4 linked regions of the Homo sapiens genome follow. The protein of the gene in region 1 purifies or fractionates together with the protein of each later gene. This does not show direct contact. Each region holds a gene or a part of one and is shown on either strand. Other genes may lie near its edges.

The links.
Region 2: the proteins of HBS1L (region 1) and LRRC46 purify together in Homo sapiens (co-immunoprecipitation; one large-scale study listed by IntAct). This does not show direct contact.
Region 3: the proteins of HBS1L (region 1) and EXOSC10 purify together in Homo sapiens (affinity purification with mass spectrometry, with the first as the bait; one large-scale study listed by BioGRID). This does not show direct contact.
Region 4: the proteins of HBS1L (region 1) and GIGYF2 purify together in Homo sapiens (affinity purification with mass spectrometry, with the first as the bait; one large-scale study listed by BioGRID). This does not show direct contact.

Annotation. Positions count from the first base shown.
Region 1 is NC_000006.12:134,964,323-134,969,798, reverse strand, and holds part of HBS1L (HBS1-like protein), read left to right. Parts: intron 1-460; coding exon 461-561; intron 562-3,325; coding exon 3,326-3,470; exon of another isoform or gene 3,471-3,473; intron 3,474-4,508; coding exon 4,509-4,520; 3' UTR 4,521-5,476. UniProt on the Homo sapiens protein: GTPase component of the Pelota-HBS1L complex, a complex that recognizes stalled ribosomes and triggers the No-Go Decay (NGD) pathway.
Region 2 is NC_000017.11:47,834,670-47,838,219, forward strand, and holds the end of LRRC46 (leucine-rich repeat-containing protein 46), read left to right. Parts: intron 1-683; coding exon 684-730; intron 731-996; coding exon 997-1,106; intron 1,107-1,363; coding exon 1,364-1,433; intron 1,434-1,663; coding exon 1,664-1,806; intron 1,807-2,080; coding exon 2,081-2,451; 3' UTR 2,452-3,050; downstream 3,051-3,550. Other genes in the region: SCRN2 (secernin-2), read right to left, coding at 3,175-3,333. UniProt on the Homo sapiens protein: Required for normal spermatogenesis and male fertility. Plays an important role in sperm flagellum biogenesis.
Region 3 is NC_000001.11:11,065,342-11,070,069, forward strand, and holds the end of EXOSC10 (exosome complex component 10), read right to left. Parts: intron 4,390-4,728; coding exon 4,218-4,389; intron 3,366-4,217; coding exon 3,304-3,365; intron 2,744-3,303; coding exon 2,667-2,743; intron 1,408-2,666; coding exon 1,377-1,407; 3' UTR 1,277-1,376; downstream 1-1,276. UniProt on the Homo sapiens protein: Catalytic component of the RNA exosome complex which has 3'->5' exoribonuclease activity and participates in a multitude of cellular RNA processing and degradation events.
Region 4 is NC_000002.12:232,786,695-232,792,170, forward strand, and holds part of GIGYF2 (GRB10-interacting GYF protein 2), read left to right. Parts: intron 1-455; coding exon 456-635; intron 636-4,003; coding exon 4,004-4,221; intron 4,222-4,313; coding exon 4,314-4,476; intron 4,477-4,563; coding exon 4,564-4,752; intron 4,753-5,476. UniProt on the Homo sapiens protein: Key component of the 4EHP-GYF2 complex, a multiprotein complex that acts as a repressor of translation initiation. In the 4EHP-GYF2 complex, acts as a factor that bridges EIF4E2 to ZFP36/TTP, linking translation repression with mRNA decay.

The sequences.
Region 1 (5,476 bases):
AAAAGCCTACTTATTTTACACTTGAGGAAACTGAGGTACAGACAGAAGAGAAAGAGTTGAGATTCAATCCCAGGTTCTTTCCCTACTACTACTTGTAATAATAAAAATGACAACAACATTTGTTCTAAATGACGAATTCTCTTACTTAATCTTTAGAACAACACTAAGATGTTGTTACCCTCCATCTTTACAGAGGAAAAAGCTGACAGGTTATGCACTGAACTAAAGTTGATGCAGTAATTGGTGGGGTAGAAATTTGAAATGCCTCTCATGACTTTTTTCCTCTTAGTGAGTTAAGTAACCACCTGATTAGAGTGGTGGGACTTAGAGGAAGCAACTGGAGATCCTGAAAGACTCCAAGCAGTAGCACTGAATTGAAGATAATTAAGTATAAGTGCCAAAAGAAAAGGCCAGAGATACTGTGGTAGCAGATTTTTAGTGTTATAATTTTTTGTTTTAGGTGCTGTTACACTACCAAACTGTCAGTGAACCCGCCGTTATTAAACGATTGATTAGTGTCTTAAACAAAAGCACGGGTGAAGTCACAAAGAAAAAGCCTAAGTGAGTGTTTTAATACAGAAATGATAAACAAGCAATTTAAGCCAATTTTTTAAAGATTAACTCATTTGTGTAGTATTTCTCTTTGTGGTAAGTGAAACCCATTTTTACTTGTTCCAGAAATTATTTTTTCAAGGGCTAGATTAAAACAAACATAAAAACAAGCAAGTATTTAAGCTCTTGTTTAGATATGGGTACTAGATATAATTTCTGTTATGTGTGGTGGTGGAGGATGTGAATTATAAATAAATGTAAATATAAACTTATATATGTATGTACATTTCAAGCCATAGATACTGATTATGTGAAAATAAGGGCATTTAAAAAAATATGTCTAGACACCGGTTCCAAATTTCTACTGCGTGTTTAACTTTCTTGTCACCTCCTTAATAAGATCATTCCCTATGCTAAGCTAAGAAGAAAATAATCTATACACTCTGTAGTGCCTGCTCTTTTCCCATCTGGAAAGTTTGTTTTTTTTTTTTTTTGCTCAAAGTCCACCTGGAGCCTTAAGTTGAGGTGATCAGCATCCTGTTGGGCCTGCTGATTAGCATTAATGTCCAGGCTTAGGTGTGACACTTCCCCTTTGGCTAGGACGAGATTGGGATTTTTTAAGTACTTCCTCAGAAACTAAGTACGTAAATAAAAACAAAATACAGGACTAGAGATGAATGTTACAAAATAGATTTCTTGGCCAGGCACAGTGGCTCATGCCTGTAATCCTAGCACTTTGAGAGGCCAAGGCGGGCAGATCACCTGAGGTCTGGAGTTTGAGACCAGCTTGGCCAACATGGCGAAACCCCGTCTCTACTAAAAATACAAAAATTAGCCGGGTGTGGTGGCTCACACCTGTAATCCCAGCTACTCAGGAGGCTGAGGCAGGAGAATCTCTTGAACCCGGTGGGCGGAGGTTGCAGTGAGCGGTGATCGCACCACTGTACTCCAGCCTGGGTGACAGAGTGAAACTCCATCTCAAAAAAAAGAAAAAAAAAAAAAGATTTCTTACCCAAATCCAAGTTAAGGCTAATTGCAGTTTGGCTTGGCTGCTTTAGCTTTGGGGTTTTCCTTCCAACTTCTTTTCCAATAACATCCCAAATCCCCTTTTTTCTGTCCTTGGTGTTCCTCATCTTTTACACCTGCAGAAGAGGCCAAATGTGGTTAGTGGGTTAATAGGCTGACTGCAAGTAGAAGAGAAAATCTCACATTGCTCTAAACCCTTGCCTGTTTCTCTGTTAGGAGGAAGGGCTACTTTACCTCTCTCCTAAAGGTAGATCTTTATATTTAACCTGAGTCTTTAGCTTGTGGCATGAGTGTTTGCTATAATGTTCTGAGAAACACGATATAACTATATGACTAACATTTCTTGAGGACCACTATTTTTAGGCTGTATTGTGAATGCTTTCACATAATGTATATTCTTAGCAATCCTGTGAAGCATCTAGCAAGTGACACAAAGCTCAAGTGGTAGAGGCAGGATTCTAACCTAGTCAGTTGGTTTACATAAATTATATTCTTTTGTTCAGGAGCCAGGTTGTTTGACCTAGACAACTGATACAGAATTTTCAGTCTGAAATTGGCTCATCATATATAATCCTGAGTCTTCCCCTCCATGCTCCTGCTACAAAATCCTAGCTCAATGATGGTAGAGTTTAACATATTCTCGTGTTTGTGTTCCCTGTCATCTTATTTGTAGCTTTATCCTTTTATTTTGCACAACCGTTTGGCCTTTCCCTTTCATTCCTGTTCAGGCACGTTGTAGGCTCTTGATTGCTTTATGCAGAATGGAATTTAATGTTCTAGAAACTAAATTAGGAACAAGCCATTTATGTATTAGATGCTCTCCTTCCTAAGGAATGAACTTAAGCCTGAAATTGTCCAAAACCAATATTTGGAATTTTTGGTGTATTTTTTTAGAACCTTCTTTTAGTCGTCTGCCCCTGAACTTATCTTTCAAAAGGAGAGTTTATGATTTCTGTCCACTATACTTCTAGAGTACATAAAAATTAAATTAGAAAACAATTCCAAAATGTCCCTTTTTAGGTTCTGCCTCTCTCACTAAGTCTGAGCAGGGCCTAGCCTAGAGATTTTTGTTCACTTATTTTTATGAAATCATTTACAGTCTGGTCCATGCCCTGTCTTCCTTCATATTTTACAAGTATCATATTGTGGAAAAGCTACTTATGTGATTTTTGTCCTGAACTCCTGCTAAGGAACTATTATTCCTGTGTGGGGAAAGAGAGAGATTGCTTGATTGATTGAGGGGAATCTTAGCAACAACAGATTGATTGTCCTCTTCACAGATAACTTCCTAATACACATTCCATAAATTACAGTTTTACTAGGAAAGACATAGGGCATTATATTCCTCTTTGCAAATACTTTTTTATAGAAATAAGCCTTAGTATAACTTTCTTTATTAGATAATTGAACTCACTTTCTTGAGGGAATGAAAGAAAAAGCATTTATTTCATGATGAGGGGCCTTAAGCATTTTAGGCTATAGTGGTCCCGTAAGGGATAGAGTTATATTTGGAAGATTGGTAAAAATGAACTACCTAATGTTTCTTAAATCTAGAATTACTCCTCATTTCTTTCAACTAAAGCAGAAAGTCCAAAGACATATATTTTCATTCAAAAAATATTTTTCTTGTTTTTGAAAGACTCAGTTGATATGTTGGTTAAATGTGAAATATTTGTTTTTCAAGTTGTTATTATTACATTTATTCACCTCTATCATATATTCATTTGTTCTTTTTTTTTCTTAATAGGTTTTTGACTAAAGGCCAGAATGCATTGGTAGAGCTACAGACACAAAGACCAATAGCTCTTGAGCTATATAAAGACTTTAAAGAGCTGGGGAGGTTCATGCTACGTTACGGTGGTTCTACAATAGCTGCTGGTGTTGTCACTGAGGTATTTTATTTTAAAGTGACTCATTATATATCCATAGTTATGATGCCTTTTCTTTTTTACCTTTTAGGAATGAAAAGAAAGCATTGAGGGAATGAAAGAAAAAGCATTGATTAGGAGAAGCCTTACTCATTTTAGGTTGTAGTGGTCCTTTAAGGGATAGGGTTATATTTGGAAGATTGGTAAAATCTTCAGTGAGATTTTATGCCTTAAAGGAAACACAGTTATGCTACTAGAACAAGAAATTAGAATTTATATTAAATTCTAATTGCTGGAGAAAACAGCCAGAAATGAACCAGAAAATTTCAATGATTTAATTTCTTCTACACTATCATAATTAATATGAATCTTATGAATATTGTATTTTAAAGGGTACTTCATTACTCCACATGATTGTTTTCTGCCTAAAACTAGTTTATTTAATTGGATATAACATAAACTTTAAGTTGCATCAAAAGTGAGTTACACATATCATGAAAAATCTTTCTTTTAAGTTGCTAAAGCACCAAGAAACTCTATATACATAATTTAAGTAAAATACATATGGAAGGCGGTGTGGGGTGGAGGTGAAGAAAACAGCTTTCAGAGTTACACTGCCCATTTGTGTTCTTGCTCCACCAGTTTTTAGCGGCATAAATGCATTTCTCCTTCAATTTACCTCCTTCAGTGTAAAAATAGGATAATAGAATCTACCTCCTAGAGTTGTGTTGAAATGAAATGATAACGTGCAAAGCACTCAGCACATAAAAAGCATCCAATATTGGTAGCTGATATCGTTGCCATCAATATCACATTTAATCTATCAAGGCATTCTTTCTAAAAGAGCATTCTAAAAATAAGATAGAGTCATTTGTGGAGAATAATGGAGAGATTATAGTAAATTGCAGAAATGGCATGACTAGGAAAGGAAGAAAGTTGCAGGACAAAGAAAAAGATTTTCTCTTGATATAATAATTCTTTCACCATAATTTTCCCTTTGTTGTTCTTATAATGTGATTGATTAAATTACAGCAAATGTCTTTTTTTTTTTTGTTTTAACAGATAAAAGAATGATGGGTCAGAATTTCTACCACGTTTCTGGATACAGTGAAATAGCTAACCTCTGTTTCAAGAATGCAGTTATTAAGTCAAAGGAACAATGTGCAATTGATATGTTTTTAGATGAGAGAGAAAAATTAAAGCTAAAATTAGCTGCAAAGAAGTATTAATAATCACCTCTGCAAAAATTCTAAGTTGCCAACTGGCAAAGAAAGTCTAATGTTAAAAACAACTTTGCCTTTGAAACGTTAATAAATGGATTTACTTTGCTAAGATTTATGGCAAGTGTCAAAAATAGTATCTGAAGATACTGAATCATCATGAAATGAACTCTACTTCTGGCCAAAGCACAATGTATTTGCAGTTTTCTCTTTTGATTCAATTATACTGCACATGTTTTAAGGAAAAGTAACTTAATTGGGTTTTTCAGGCAGTTGATATTTGACCTAAGCTTTTTTTTTTTTTTTTTTTCCAGTTAATGCTAAGAAAAGATTTGGGGAAGGTTATAATAAAAGTATTTTGTGGTGACCATAAGAATGTCCCTCCCCAAACAAGTAAACTTGTGAAAGTTTAATTTGGAATTAGTGGAAGCTGTTCCTTTGAAAGCCAAGATATTATTTAAGTTGTAAAGCCAGCTAATAAAATGCCTTAGTTTGAGCATAATACAAACTGTGTTTTGTTCTTTAGACATTTATGAGATTCTCTGCCACTAACAGTAAATATGATTTAGGGGTTTTGTGGGATCTTTTTCACCTAAGAGTTTCCTAGCTCTGTCACATGAATTCTTTTTTATCCTAATGGCAGATCCAATTTCATCTCATTCATTTTTTTAACCATAACTTGCTTTTCCCATTCTCACTTTTAGAATTATACCTATGATGGCCCTTTCTTTATCTTGCTTACCTTATAGATTATAAGTCCCCTGTGAGTAAGTAAGAGTCATGTTTTTCTTTAAAGTTTCAACAACAAAC
Region 2 (3,550 bases), on another chromosome or scaffold:
ACGAATGACATAGGGTCCTGAATTGAAAAACTAATTCCCTCAAAATAGATCCTGAACATGACCTGTGCTCCTTCCACTGTTCTTTAGGCACTTCTCTTGATCTAGAAGTTCTTTTTGGCATCTACTCTAAATCTTTCACGTTAAATAGCTCCAGCCCATTTCCTGTTTTGAAGAAGAGGAAACTATGAAGATTCCTGTACATCATTCAGATCCTACTTGAAGGCTGTTTGGTGGTGGTGGTGGTGGTTGGTTGATCTTCAGCCTTCCCCTGGTTGAGTATTCCCAGCTCGCTTCAACTTTCCCCATAGAAACTTTAACCGTCAAGTTCCTGTATGCTCATTGTTCTCTCTGTGTATGCAAGCCACCACCAAGGCCCTTTCCGTTTTCCTGGTGGCTTCTTAGTTTCCTTTTCTGATTCCCAGGTCACTCTTTGGTTGTGGAATCAGAAGAGTATACGTAGTCAGGTTTAGATACCCCAGGTTTACACCCTTAACCATCCACATGGGGAAAGAAAATCATCTTTCTTAAGGTAGTGGCAACCTGTTCAAGGAGTGGGGTGATCATTCCCAAAGTGCCAGATCTCCAGCTGCAGAGTAGACATGGTCTTGGGGCTTTGTCCCCGTAAAGGGCCCCTGACGCATCTGATCTCAGCTTGGTTTCCCCACTTCGGTTTCTTCTTGCAGAATAAGATCCAGCAAATTGAGAACCTGGCTTGCATCCCCTCCTTGCGGTATGTGGTGCCAGGGCTCAGGCAGGGGAAGAGGGGTTGGGGGAACCTAGCCATATCCCAAAGAACTGGTTCAGATTTCTCCAAGCCTGGGTCCTTGTCAGTCAAGGACCAGCAAGCCTAGATCTACTCCCTCACCCCAGAAGGCCATGTGTCCCCACTGGTCATCAGCTGCCTAGCCCAGGGGCCCCGGTGTCAGGTGCCCTCCTCTTTTCTTCCAGCTGTTCCATGATTCAGCTCTGCCTCTGTACCCCTTCCTTCCCCTACAGCTTCCTGTCTCTGGCAGGAAACCAAATCAGGCAGGTGGAAAACCTCCTCGACCTCCCATGCCTCCAGTTTCTGGACCTTTCTGAGAACCTGATAGAAACATTGAAGCTGGGTAGGAACCCACTCGCCCTGGCTCACCAAACACATCCCCTGTGGGGCCTGCCCTCCCCTCTGCACCCATCTGCCCATGCTTCTATTAGCCATGCCCCTGCAGGTCCACATTTCATCCTCAGGGAGTTCAAGGGGTTGTGCCTAGAGGTACTGGCTTTGGACTAGAAAGTGGGTATGAGAACCCCATTCCCATCGCTTCATGGTCTTTTGGCTAAGATCAAGTGAGAACCCCATTTCCTCTCTCTTTGCTGTGTGCAGATGAGTTCCCCCAGAGCCTTCTCATCCTCAACCTGTCTGGAAACAGCTGCACCAACCAGGATGGCTACCGGTAAGGAGTGGAGGGTGGGAAGAAAGGTCATGGCTGAGCTCTACCTGCTAACTCAGCCCAGACCCCTCTCAGCCTGCAAACCTGGGGTCCTGTCCATGACACCTTCTCCCCCACCTCCTACCTAGCTCATGAGCCACCACCCCTCCGGGTGTGAGTGCTGTGGTGCGTGTCTTTGCATCCTCCACGCCAGGGTGCCCTCCTGGGTAACCTCTGCTCCTTCTGCTCTGCAGCGAGCTGGTGACAGAAGCCCTGCCACTTCTCCTGGACCTGGACGGGCAGCCTGTGGTGGAGCGCTGGATTTCGGATGAGGAGGATGAAGCCTCAAGCGATGAGGAGTTCCCAGAGCTGAGTGGCCCATTCTGCTCAGAACGAGGTGACCCTGCTTTCCAAGGTTTTCAGCCTCCCCAGAGCCCACCTCTGCCCTGTGGGACATGAGGGAAGCTAAGGTGGCAGTGGCGTCCGGGGAGGGGAGCCCCAAGTTCAGATCAACATCTGGGCCAGAGCCAGGTGTCAGTCCTGGGCCCCAGCCTCAGGCTCCTTCCCACAAGGGACAAGGGGCCAGCCAGAGACTTCCCTGAGCCCAGGGACCCTCCTGCTGAGCCCAGGGCTCCACCCACCCTGTACCCTCCACCCCCGGCCCCTCCCAGGCTTCCTCAAGGAGCTGGAGCAGGAGCTGAGCAGGCACAGGGAGCACCGGCAACAGACGGCCCTGACAGAGCACCTGCTGAGGATGGAGATGCAGCCCACCCTCACCGACCTGCCCCTGCTACCTGGGGTGCCCATGGCTGGGGACAGCAGCCCTTCTGCCACTCCTGCGCAAGGGGAGGAGACAGTCCCTGAGGCCGTCTCCTCACCCCAGGCCTCCTCTCCCACCAAGAAACCATGCAGTCTGATTCCCAGGGGCCACCAAAGCTCTTTCTGGGGAAGGAAGGGGGCACGAGCAGCCACAGCCCCCAAGGCCTCTGTGGCTGAGGCCCCCAGCACAACCAAAACTACGGCCAAGAGAAGCAAGAAATGATTCTCTGTCAACCTTTCTCTACTAGTGGAGAGGAGTGGGGCCTGCCCCTCTTCTCAGACCTCTGACCTGTGACAGAAGCCCATCCCCAGTAAAGTGTCTCTAGGCCCTGAGTATGCTTTTCATGTCACTTGGGGTATCTCAGGGGAAGAAACCAGTGAAAGCTCCAGGAAACAAAATACAGAGCTCAGTGAGCCACCTGATTCTAAAGAGCGAGTCTGGAATCTTTCGGGAGCTACCCACAGGGCAGGCATGCCTCAGGCCCCCGCTGGCTTCCTGGCTCCCACTTGGGCAGGAAGCGGGCACCACCTCATGGAAGAGGCATGCCATCTCACTGCCACCCCTAGCGAGTGCCCTTCCCCGGTCCAAGCCAAGGACCAAGGAGCTGTGGTCCTAGTCATCCCCAACAGCAGCCAGCTCCTGTCCCCTCCCTGTCCTCCTGCCCAGTCCCCATCACTCACCCACTCATAGGAATGAGTACACAACCACAGGCCCCGCAGCCAGCCCACAGCTGCCTTTGGGCCTCACTTGGCTCTCCCACCCCCACTGGTCCTGGGATAAAGTTCACTGAAGAGAAAATAAAGCACATTTATTAAGGCAAAGGCCAAGCTGGCCGCTCAGAACATGGCCAAGGAGCGTGAAGGGATTGCTCCACTTTACCACCACTCAGGGCACCCAGGCCCCAGGGGTCCTGGGTCCACCCCAGGCCAGCAGAAGCTATGAAGCTTACGCATAAGCCTGGCTCTCCCTCTTCACGAAGGCCTGGAAGAGGCTGCCCAGCTCCCAGAGGGGTGGGGCCCACTCGCCGGCCAGCAGCCCCTGTGTGGCCTCGAGGCCTTCCTGCTCCAGATCCTGCTGTTTCTGCTGGAGCTGCTGCCCCCGATCCTGCCCCAAGGGAAAGCTGAGATGAGTCTGTCCGGGACAGGCTTCCCGCCAGGTGAAGGGGGGACTGTGTACCACCTCACACAAGCAGGAGAAAGGAGATACCCCCCGACATTCCCCAAAGGCAGTTGCTGGCTTTGAAGGGAGGAACTCCTCTCCCCAGCTCTGAAATCTCTTCCACTCCCTAGTTCCTTCATATTTCCAGAGTCCCACTGGGAGT
Region 3 (4,728 bases), on another chromosome or scaffold:
TGTCATTTTCAACCAGTCTAGTCCTAGCTAAAACAAACTCCAGCCTATCTTAGGACAGGGCTGTTCTCTGCTGTTCAAGAGTGGGAGCTCTCTGACGGCAGTGATGTGTGATTTGGCTTGGTACCCCCCAAAGGTTATCATATACAGTTGGCAATCTCAATACTTTGTGGGATGAATTTCAAAGAAAAAAGGTTTCTAGGTTAAGTATTTGTAAAAACCAAAGTAATGGCATTTTGTGCTTTCCTGATTTATTAGCCCATCTCAGGATTAAAATAAAATGAAGTTCTAAAGAAATTATCAGAGACTGGGTCACAAATTTATATAAAAGTTTAGTGAGTGCTGCATTATTAAGAATAGTACCAAAAATGAAAACCTAAGCGTTTAACAATGGGGGTTGGCGAAAATAAATTTTAGATTGAGAAAAGTGTCATAACACAAACTTTCAAGGTGACAAATGATAGAAACCTGAACCCAAGATATATTTTAAAAATATATCTATATACACATAGCGAAAGCTTATAAGGAAATACAGCAAAATGTTAATCTCAGCTGGGTGTGGTGGCTCATGCCTGAAATCCCAACACTGGCAGGACAAGACAGGAGGATTGCTTGAGGCCAGGAGTTCAAGACCAGCCTGGGCAACACAGCAAGACCCCATCTCTATAAAACATAAGAAAAATTACCCAGGTGTGGTGGCATGTGCCTGGGAGGTCAAGGCTGCAGTGAGCTAGGATCACACTACTGCACTCCAGAATGGGCAACAGAGTGAGACCCTGTCTCAAAAAAAGGAAAAAAGCATCTTTGTGTGACAGGACTACAAATGATTAAAATTTTCTCTTTGCATTTGCCTTTTTTTTTGAGACAGAGTCTTGCTCTACTGCCCAGGCTCAAATGAGGTGGCGTGATCTCGGCTCACTGCAACCTCCGCCTCCTAGGTTCAAGCGATTCTCCTGCCTCAGCCTCCTGAGTAGCTGGGATTACAGGCGTCCACCACCATGCCCGGCTAATTTTTTGTATTTTTAGTAGAGAAAGGCTTTCACCGTGTTGGCCAGCATGGTCTCGATCTCCTGACCTCGTGATCCGCCTGCCTCAGCCTCCCAAAGTGCTGGGATTGCAGGCGTGAGCCACCGCACCCGGCCGGCTCTGGATTTTTCTAGAAGTCACCATAACCCCCGGAGCACACTCACCTGCCCACAGACAGCTGAAGATGGTTGCCTGAACAGGATGGCAACCTGCCAGAGCTGTGGCGGCAACAAAATAAAAGTCAGGAATCAGCTTTCTTCAGGAAGAATTTTAATGGTTTAAAAATATGTATGTACAAAAGCAGCACCAGCATTTGGTGCTTCCGGTCCACAGGCGCCACGTGTCTTCCAGGACTATCTCTGTGGCCAGTTGTACCTGAAGCCTCTGCAGAGAGTACAAAAACAACAGTTATTTCTTCCGGGCTGGTTGGATGTTCTCAGATGGTTTACAAAATGGTGCAAATCTTAATCATGCAGAACAGAGGAAGAATGGTTTGCTCAGGGGCCCCAGAGAACTCGGCGGCCCACCAGAGTTGGCTGAGCTGAGCAGCATCTTGAGAAGGCAGACCTGTTTTTCCTGCCCTCGGGCAAGTCCCCTGACCTCAGGGTCGGCTTAATTATTAGGATTTTATGTTTTTAACAAAAACATTTGGCTGGGTGCAGTGGCTCACACCTGTAATCCCAGTACTCTGGGAGGCCAAGGCGGGAGGATCAATTGAGGCCAGGAGTTTGAGACCAGCCTGGCCAACATGGCAAAACCCCATCTCTACTAAAAATACAAAAACAGGCCGGGCGCGGTGGCTCACGCCTGTAACCCCAGCACTGTGGGAGGCCGAGGCGGGCGGATCACAAGGTCAGGAGATCGAGACCATCCTGGCTAACATGGTGAAACCCCGTCTCTACTAAAAAATACAAAAAATTAGCCGGGCATCATGGCGGGCGCCTGTGGTCCCAGCTACTCGAGAGGCTGAGGCAGGAGAATGGCGTGAACCCGGGAGGCGCAGCTTGCAGTGAGCAGAGATCGTGCCACTGCACTCCAGCCTGGGCGACAGACCGAGACTCCATCTCAAAGAAGAAAAAAAAAAAAAACATTAGCCGGGCATGATGGCAGGCACCTGTAATCCCAGCTACTCGGGAGGCTGAGGTGAGAGACTTGCTTGAACCCAGGAGGTGGAGGTTGCAGTGAGCTGAGATTGTGCCACTGCACTCCAGCCTGGGTGACAGAATGAGACTCTCACAAAACAAAACCAAACCAAGCCAAACCACTCTTCAACAACAAGGATAACCCACATGTGCTTACTTTTTCCTCATTCCTAATAGGCTGGTCCAGGAAAATTTCACAACTATTTACACCTATTTTCCCTGAGGTGACCCCAGGACACACGGTAACTAGAGAGCCAGGAACAAGGGGAATCTGAGTCCTGGGGTGCAGTGCCTGGCTCTGTGATGTATGGCACAGAGCAAATCACCTCCCGCCCTTGTTTTCCGAGTGGCGTGAGGGACCTGGCTGTGGGAGGTTCTCTGAGTCATCCTGGTTGAAGACCCCTGGACACTCGCTCCCCAGCTACTCCCCACGGACCACACCACGCAGGGCAGGTGCTTTCTCACTGGGCTCCCTGGGCCACACCGCCGTCCACCACATACCTGTCTGACTTTCCAGTTGGAAAGGACATGCTTTTGTTTCCCACCGACTGTTTAATTTTTTTGGCTGCAATGCATTTCTGAAAAGAAAAGAAACCGTTTAAGCTGGGTGGGCACCTTGACCACAAGATACACAGAAAAACACACCTGAGCTCAGGTGGCCAAAGATTCTAGCAGCACAGGAGTGACTTTAGATCCCCTGAGAGAGGATGTTTCTGTGTCTCTGAAGGCAAGGCCGCCAGGATGCGCTGCAAGAGGAACAGGAGCACCCCAAAGCAGCCCTGCCCCCGCGCCTGTGGAAGCTACAGCCACGCTGTTTCCCTGGCACCAGCACCAACACCCACGAGGGGTGAATGCAGGCTTGTGCTGGCCCCAAAGGGGGTGCTTTTGGCCTGCAGCTATAGTTCCCATGGTAGCAAACACAGAATAATACCCTTTAAAGCCACATGCCAGCTTTTACAGCCTCGTTTTATGAGTTGCTGGGGTAGCTGATCAGTACTGTCTGCCCTTGGGAAGAAATGAGGTGAGGAAAAAGATATGCAAAGGAATGGACTCCTGGATGGGCCTGTCTTCTCAGCAGAGGAGGAGGTCAGAAACAGGCGCCACCAGCGTGCTAAAATCCTCCAGGAGCAGTTCTTACCTTGCCAGACGGGGTCTGTTTATTTGGATCAAACTGAGAAGAAACTTTGGATTTGCTGTTTCCTGAAAGGTAAGAGATGAGAGAGACCTGCGGTCAGGTCAATGAGTTACCACACATCACAGGCTCACAGCGAGGCCGGGACCATGACACTCAGGGAAGCCTTGGCTGTGAGAGCACCCCTGTCACGATGAGGGGCTAGGGCTCATGGCTCACATAAATGAATACATAGCGATCCTGGTCCCTGTGGGCAGTCTGAAAACCAGGCCCATTTCTCTCAGCTCTAGTCCCAGGACCTTAGGGGCAGGTGGCTACAGCAGTGGCCCCCGCACATAAGGAAATCCATTCTGATCTCTGTGCTGGGTGATGCCATAAGGAACTCGGGCTCTGAGGCGACACTCCTGTATAAAGGGCCATTGTGTGGACTGGCCTCTGCTTTCTCTTTTCCAAAGGAGCATGTTGCTCCGAAGGCTGCTAGAGTCGAGAATGCCATCTGTAGCCCCTTCAAAGCAGACGGACTCTCACAGCCCAAGCAGCCATAGGGGTTCATGTCATAGGCTTTGAGATTTTTCAACAAACAAAATTCTGTGTGTGTGTGTGTGTGAGAGAGAGAGAGAGGGTTTATGGGCACAAGTTATAGTGAGGAAGGATGGCGCCCTGGTCACAGTGGAAGTGACAGGTGATCTTGCTAACCCACCATGGAGGCCACCATGAGTTGAGCTCCCATGGAGGAGGTGGTAATGAGGCTGCAGGCGACTGTCCACATTGCCACGGCCTCTCTGGACTACTCCAACAATTCCTGGCTAGCACCATGCCTTGTGCAGGACTCACTTGGCCCCTATATTGTGGTCTCTTTATGGCTTCCTCCCCTCTGACGCGCACAGATGTCCCTGTATGGGGCCCCATTACTTCCTCACCAGCAAAAGCCTTGAAGTCTGACTGGCTGTAGTCGTAAGGCGTAAACTCTTTTTCTGGTGGCTCTGGGTCCTTTGGCTTCTTGGAAATTTTGAGTCGTTTCTTCTCTTGTTTCTGTTCTGTGGTCCTTGGGTCGCTTGTTGCTCGCTCTCTCTTCTTTGCAGCATTTTCTAGCTGTAGATCAGGAACAGATGTGGGGGAGGAACAGGGAGGCACATGGGAACAGGGAACTCCACCGGCCTCAGCAATAGCTGGGACCCAGCTGCCTAAGTGGTAAGAAGAACAGTCAGTGGTGGGGAGAGGAGCTGTGGCTGGAACTTCGGGACCAACACTCAGGGTCAGCTGAAACAAATTCCTCACTGGACAATGACATGAGGTCATTTAAGAAAGGCAAGCAGGCCAGGTGCAGTGGCTCATGCCTATAATTCCAGTGCTTTGGGCGGCCTAGGTGGGAGGACTGCTTTAGGCAGTCTGAGACCAGCCTGGGCAACATAGCAAGACCCCTATCTCTAC
Region 4 (5,476 bases), on another chromosome or scaffold:
GGCAAGATACACTGTTAGTGAAAACAGCAAACAAAACAACATTTATAACATCCTGAGGGTGGCGTTTGTGTGTGTGGATGAGGGAGCTATGTATACATGTGTAAGTGTACCCATGGACAGTGTTTGGAAAGACTTTATAAGAAACTTGGTGATGGTTCCTTCTGGGGAGTACGACTCTGAGGGTCTTGTGTAGGAAGATGGACTTTTCATTGTACGCTTTTTCAAAAAAAATTTTACATAATATTTTTGTTTAAAAAAATTGCCCAGTCTCTGAACATGGCTTTAAGAAATGTGTCTAATAATATATACATATACCCACTGTTATTTTAGTGATTTTTTTCTGAATATTGAAATGGACCCATTTGCAGGAAAGCTTGATTTGAGCTGTGAAGTTTGTTTTCAAAGCCTATACTGGCAGAGGCTCATGTTTACTTACCATATTATTTTCTTTATAGGGAGACCAAATTTTGAGGAAGGTGGACCAACATCAGTAGGGAGAAAGCATGAATTTATACGCTCAGAAAGTGAAAATTGGCGCATCTTTAGAGAGGAACAAAATGGAGAAGATGAAGATGGAGGTTGGCGACTAGCTGGATCAAGGAGGGATGGAGAGAGGTGGCGACCTCACAGTCCTGGTAAGAATTCTGTTGAGTAAAGGCACACAGGGACTGAAATAAGGGAAAGTTTGATGGAAATAGGGATTAAATGAAAAAGATAAACTGGCTTAAAAAATGTGGGGGTGGATTCATATTATTTATGCTGTCACAGTTTTATTACTAGAAAAAATTGCAACATAAAAATTTCCTACATCTATTCAGTTGATTGAAATCACTTTTCTATTTTTCTGGGGCAAATAGTGTAGTTTAATGGGAAGCACCTGCGCTCAACTGCAGAAATGAGGGTTTCATTCAGTTTTGTCTACCTCTAAATCTCTGAATCTTTTTTAGCATTCTTTAAGATTTATAAATGTGTAAAAATTACACACTTGAAATATGTGCTTCCCTCCCCAACAATGAGTGTTTTTCCTAACAAGAAAGGGTTTATTCTTTCATTTTTTCCCTTTTGAAAATGTGATTTAACCTTATTTGAAGAATAAGCTTTAAACCTAGGTCAGAAACATAATCACAAGTTCATTCTTATGTCCTTCTAACTTTAGAAGAAGGAGAGACAATAGTAGTGATTAGTGGCTTTTAAAGTTCTTCTGTTTGTCTCTTAAAAATGCTCAAACTGTTCTTCTTGGACATTAGATATGCTAGTAATTGAAGACACTAGTGCTTTGTGTTAAAGTTCATCCTGTACCACAGTGCTGATTCCATGCCTCATGATAATCAGATGCAACTGTAGTTCCAATTGTGGGGTCATGCAAAACTGAAGCACACAGAGTATATGTGGAATGCCCTATGAATTTCATGTGTATGACAGTATTTTATCAACCATGTGCCAGAGGGGCTTACCTTTAATACAGGAAATTATGATAAGTAAACTGTTTTCACTTTTAAAAATCAAGTTATTAGCAAAACCACTAGCTTAGATCTGGGTAGACATTATAACAGGCATTCAGAGTATTTTAAGGAAGTGGTAGGTAGATAGAAACATACTGAAGTTAATGTTTGGGTAGAGTTAGGATGGTTTTATACCAACTCTTCATGGCTGCCTCTTGGGTGGGTTTTCTGTCATTAGTGGGCATTGTTTACATCACAAGGTCTAGACAATTTTCATTAGTCTGTGACCTGGGCCAGATGTTATAGTTCTCTAAAAGGCATCACTGCATTTTATGCTGAGCTTGTCCGTAGGCAGAGGGTTTGTAGACTATGTTCCCAACAAGCATTCAGTGAAGAATGGATAGGATCTGGGCTGAGAGAGAAAAGAAATTCCAGCTGGTCAAAAACAAACAAGGTGAATGTTTTGGAAGATGAACTGTGTTTTTTGAGCCCAAATGTCTGATGTTGATTCTATTAAAGGGAGTTTAACAAAGTACCTCCCACCCAACAACTTAGAATTTGGTTATATATTATCTTCTTCTCATCTTTTCTGAATCTTTCTTTCCCCCTAATATTTGACTTTCATATCATTTTTGTCATCAACTTGTGTATCTTCCAGAACTTTTAATCCATATACATATATATTTTTTCAGTCACACCTGTGGCTGAAATCCATATATTTTTAAAAGACAGTTTGGGGGATATAAAGATCCCCCAAATATAAAGTTTGGGTCTGAAAAAACAGTGTAAATGCATTTTAAAAAAGAATACGATTCACTTTTTAAACCCAGTATATTCAAAGTATAGCCTGATTATAGCAGTTTTCATATGTTAACTCTTAACGTTTGTTAGTTTATGGTTAATCTTTTATTAAGATTTGAGTAAAACTTTAAATTATTTTAACTGATTTTATGAAAATAGTATCCAACTTTAGTTTAGATGTAGGGTCTGTAAATCAGCAGTCAGCCTTAATAAGTACCTTGCATGTCTTACTTGCTATGTTTAGTTTCGTGAGTAAAATTTTATGAACTACTGATAAGATAACATTATGGGATATAAAATAGGGCTTCCGGCTGGATGTGCGTGGGGGTGGGAACATTAAGGACAGGGAGGCATCCAGTCTGGGAGCTGAACCTAGGAAAGTCAGTAAGAGGAGAAACATGAGCCAGGTACCTAGAAGGATAGATTCCTGTCATGATGTACATTTAGACTGTTAGAAATGAAAGCAGTACAGAGGGCTCTGGAATTCATTTGATCATGAAGACTCTTTTCACATAATGGCTCTAGGTTTCCACGTAAGCAGTCTGAGTATAAAATTCCTTAGTTCTCATAGGAAGTAGTAAATAGTGTTTTGTTGTTTTTATATGAAGGGATGGGAGTGTGGGACTAAGATTTCTTTTTTGTGAGTGGCTTATCAGATGCTACCTGTATTTGGCATTTTAACGTTTTGCCCTTTGTTTTCCAATTTGATTTTTAGATTGCTGGTTTTTGCAAAGTTTGTCTCAATAGTGAGAACATTTAACTCTGGCCACATTTCTTTTTCTTATCCCCCACAGAGAAAGCAGTCAAGGATGGAAAATTCTAATAGGTTAAAGCCTGCTTTTCTTTTTAAGACTCTTTTAGACTCAGGTCTGTCAGATTTTAGCAAGAGTTTCCCTTTCTTTTTTTTAGAAAAATATCTTAAGTAGGATCTCTTATTATTAGGCAATCTTTTCTTCTGTTGGGAAATGTAGATTTGGGAATGTCCGTAGGGGTATTATATGGATAGGGAGAATTAAGAGATGAGAAAGAAGGGAGAGGAGTAAGTATGTTATTGTGGAACAAGCAGCAGAGGGTGCAGAATTGGATTTTAGTTCTACTTTGCCATGTGCGAGTTACTTCTGCTGGCAAAGTTTTAGTTTCTTCTTAAACTATAAAATTAGGATAGTGAACTTCATAAAATCTCTGTGACAACTTTCAGCACTGTAATTTTGTGAATTTTTGGGGGAGGATCAGAATTACAAGTGGGAACCTGGCATTAATAAATAGTCATGATGAGTTTGATATAAGTCAACACAGGGAGCTGATTTTATCCACAAACAATGATATTTTCATGGGAAGAAAGAAAATGCTTTAAGATTGGGCAAAAGGAAGGTGTAAACTTCAGTATGGAAGGATGTCTAGTGCATTAAGTCTGGATGAGGAGTTGGCGGCTAATCAGTATTTTAATCAAGTACCTAGGACTTACTGAAAGTGCGTACTTGGAATACAGTGTCCTTTAAATGTACTGCATTTTAGATTTATCTTTTAAAGCTTTAGAGTATGTTGCCTGGCTCAGTACTTAAGTACTGTTGTCATCTCGTAATGGTACATATACTCTGAACTCTGAACTTCATTTAGTTGCCTAATGTTCTCTTTACTAGGTCAGTCCATTTGAGTTTGCGGTCACTTGTAGTTTTCTCCTTTATTTTCTATTCCTGATTTTCTTATTCAAATACTGTCATAAAACTTTTCTAAGGTTTGTGTCCTCCTTCTCATCTCAGATGGCCCTCGTTCTGCAGGCTGGCGGGAACACATGGAACGACGTCGGAGGTTTGAGTTTGATTTTCGAGATAGAGATGATGAACGGGGTTACCGAAGGGTTCGCTCTGGCAGTGGGAGCATAGATGATGACAGGGATAGCTTGCCCGAATGGTGCTTAGAGGATGCTGAAGAAGAAATGGGTACATTTGACTCATCTGGAGCATTCCTTTCTCTAAAAGTAAGAAACGTGTTTTAAATGTCATGACCAGCATTAACCTTATACCAAAGCCAAATCTGCTGTTGATCTTTGGTTTTATTCTCTTTCTACAGAAAGTACAGAAAGAGCCTATTCCAGAAGAGCAGGAGATGGACTTCCGGCCTGTGGACGAAGGGGAGGAGTGCTCTGACTCTGAGGGTAGCCATAATGAAGAGGCCAAAGAACCCGATAAGACAAATAAGAAAGAAGGAGAGAAAACAGATAGAGTAGGAGTTGGTAAGGCCTCTTCTTGCCCTTTGCCTTTTTTTTCCTCCATCAAACCAAAACTTTCGTAAGTTCAACTAAGATTACTTCGTGTTCCAGAAGCTAGTGAGGAAACTCCCCAGACCTCATCATCATCTGCTAGACCAGGTACTCCTTCAGACCATCAGTCTCAGGAAGCATCACAGTTTGAGAGGAAAGATGAACCAAAAACTGAGCAAACGGAAAAAGCTGAAGAGGAGACTCGGATGGAAAATAGTCTACCAGCCAAAGTGCCCAGCAGAGGGGATGGTATGTATTTGTGGGAATAGACAAGCTAAAATAGGATTCTGCTGAGGCCAGTGATCACTGATAAGTTAGGCTTCTGCTTATGCCTCCTAGAACTGCTTTTAGTGGGTGAATTATCGGAATAGATTATTTTACCAGTAAACCCAGTCAAACAGTGCTTCTCACGTATGTGTCCATCTCAGAATTACCAAAACAGAGTTCGAATCTGCAAGGGTGGAGCTCTGGAATCTCATGTCCTAAGGTGTTATGACATAGCCACCCTGTCATTACTGGTGAACTGGGTGTCATAGCCTTTGCATTAGTTTGATTCCCGTATTAGACAGTTACCTTCCTTTCATGTGTTGACTAATTATGTGCCCAGCTTAAATTACCAGATGACACACCAAAATGCCATTTTTCTAAAAGAGGACAAGTAGAGAACATATGTGAATCTGTGGCAGAATAAGCTTAAAACATATCTCTTTCAGTTGTTAGTGTATTGGTTTAAGTTGCTCATACACTTTATTAGGCAATATTAATGCTCATTTCCATGTTTCTTCTTGTACGTATTTAAAAATGTCATTGTAATGCCTGACGTTGAAGGGTTACTTGATTCATTTACCATAAAAATTGATACCCTTTAACATGGCATATGAGACACTGCACAATCTGGCATCTGCTTCCCTTTGTGCAGTTTCATTGCCAGCCTCTTTACTTCCCTCACGTTCTACTTACCAGCCTCAAAGCC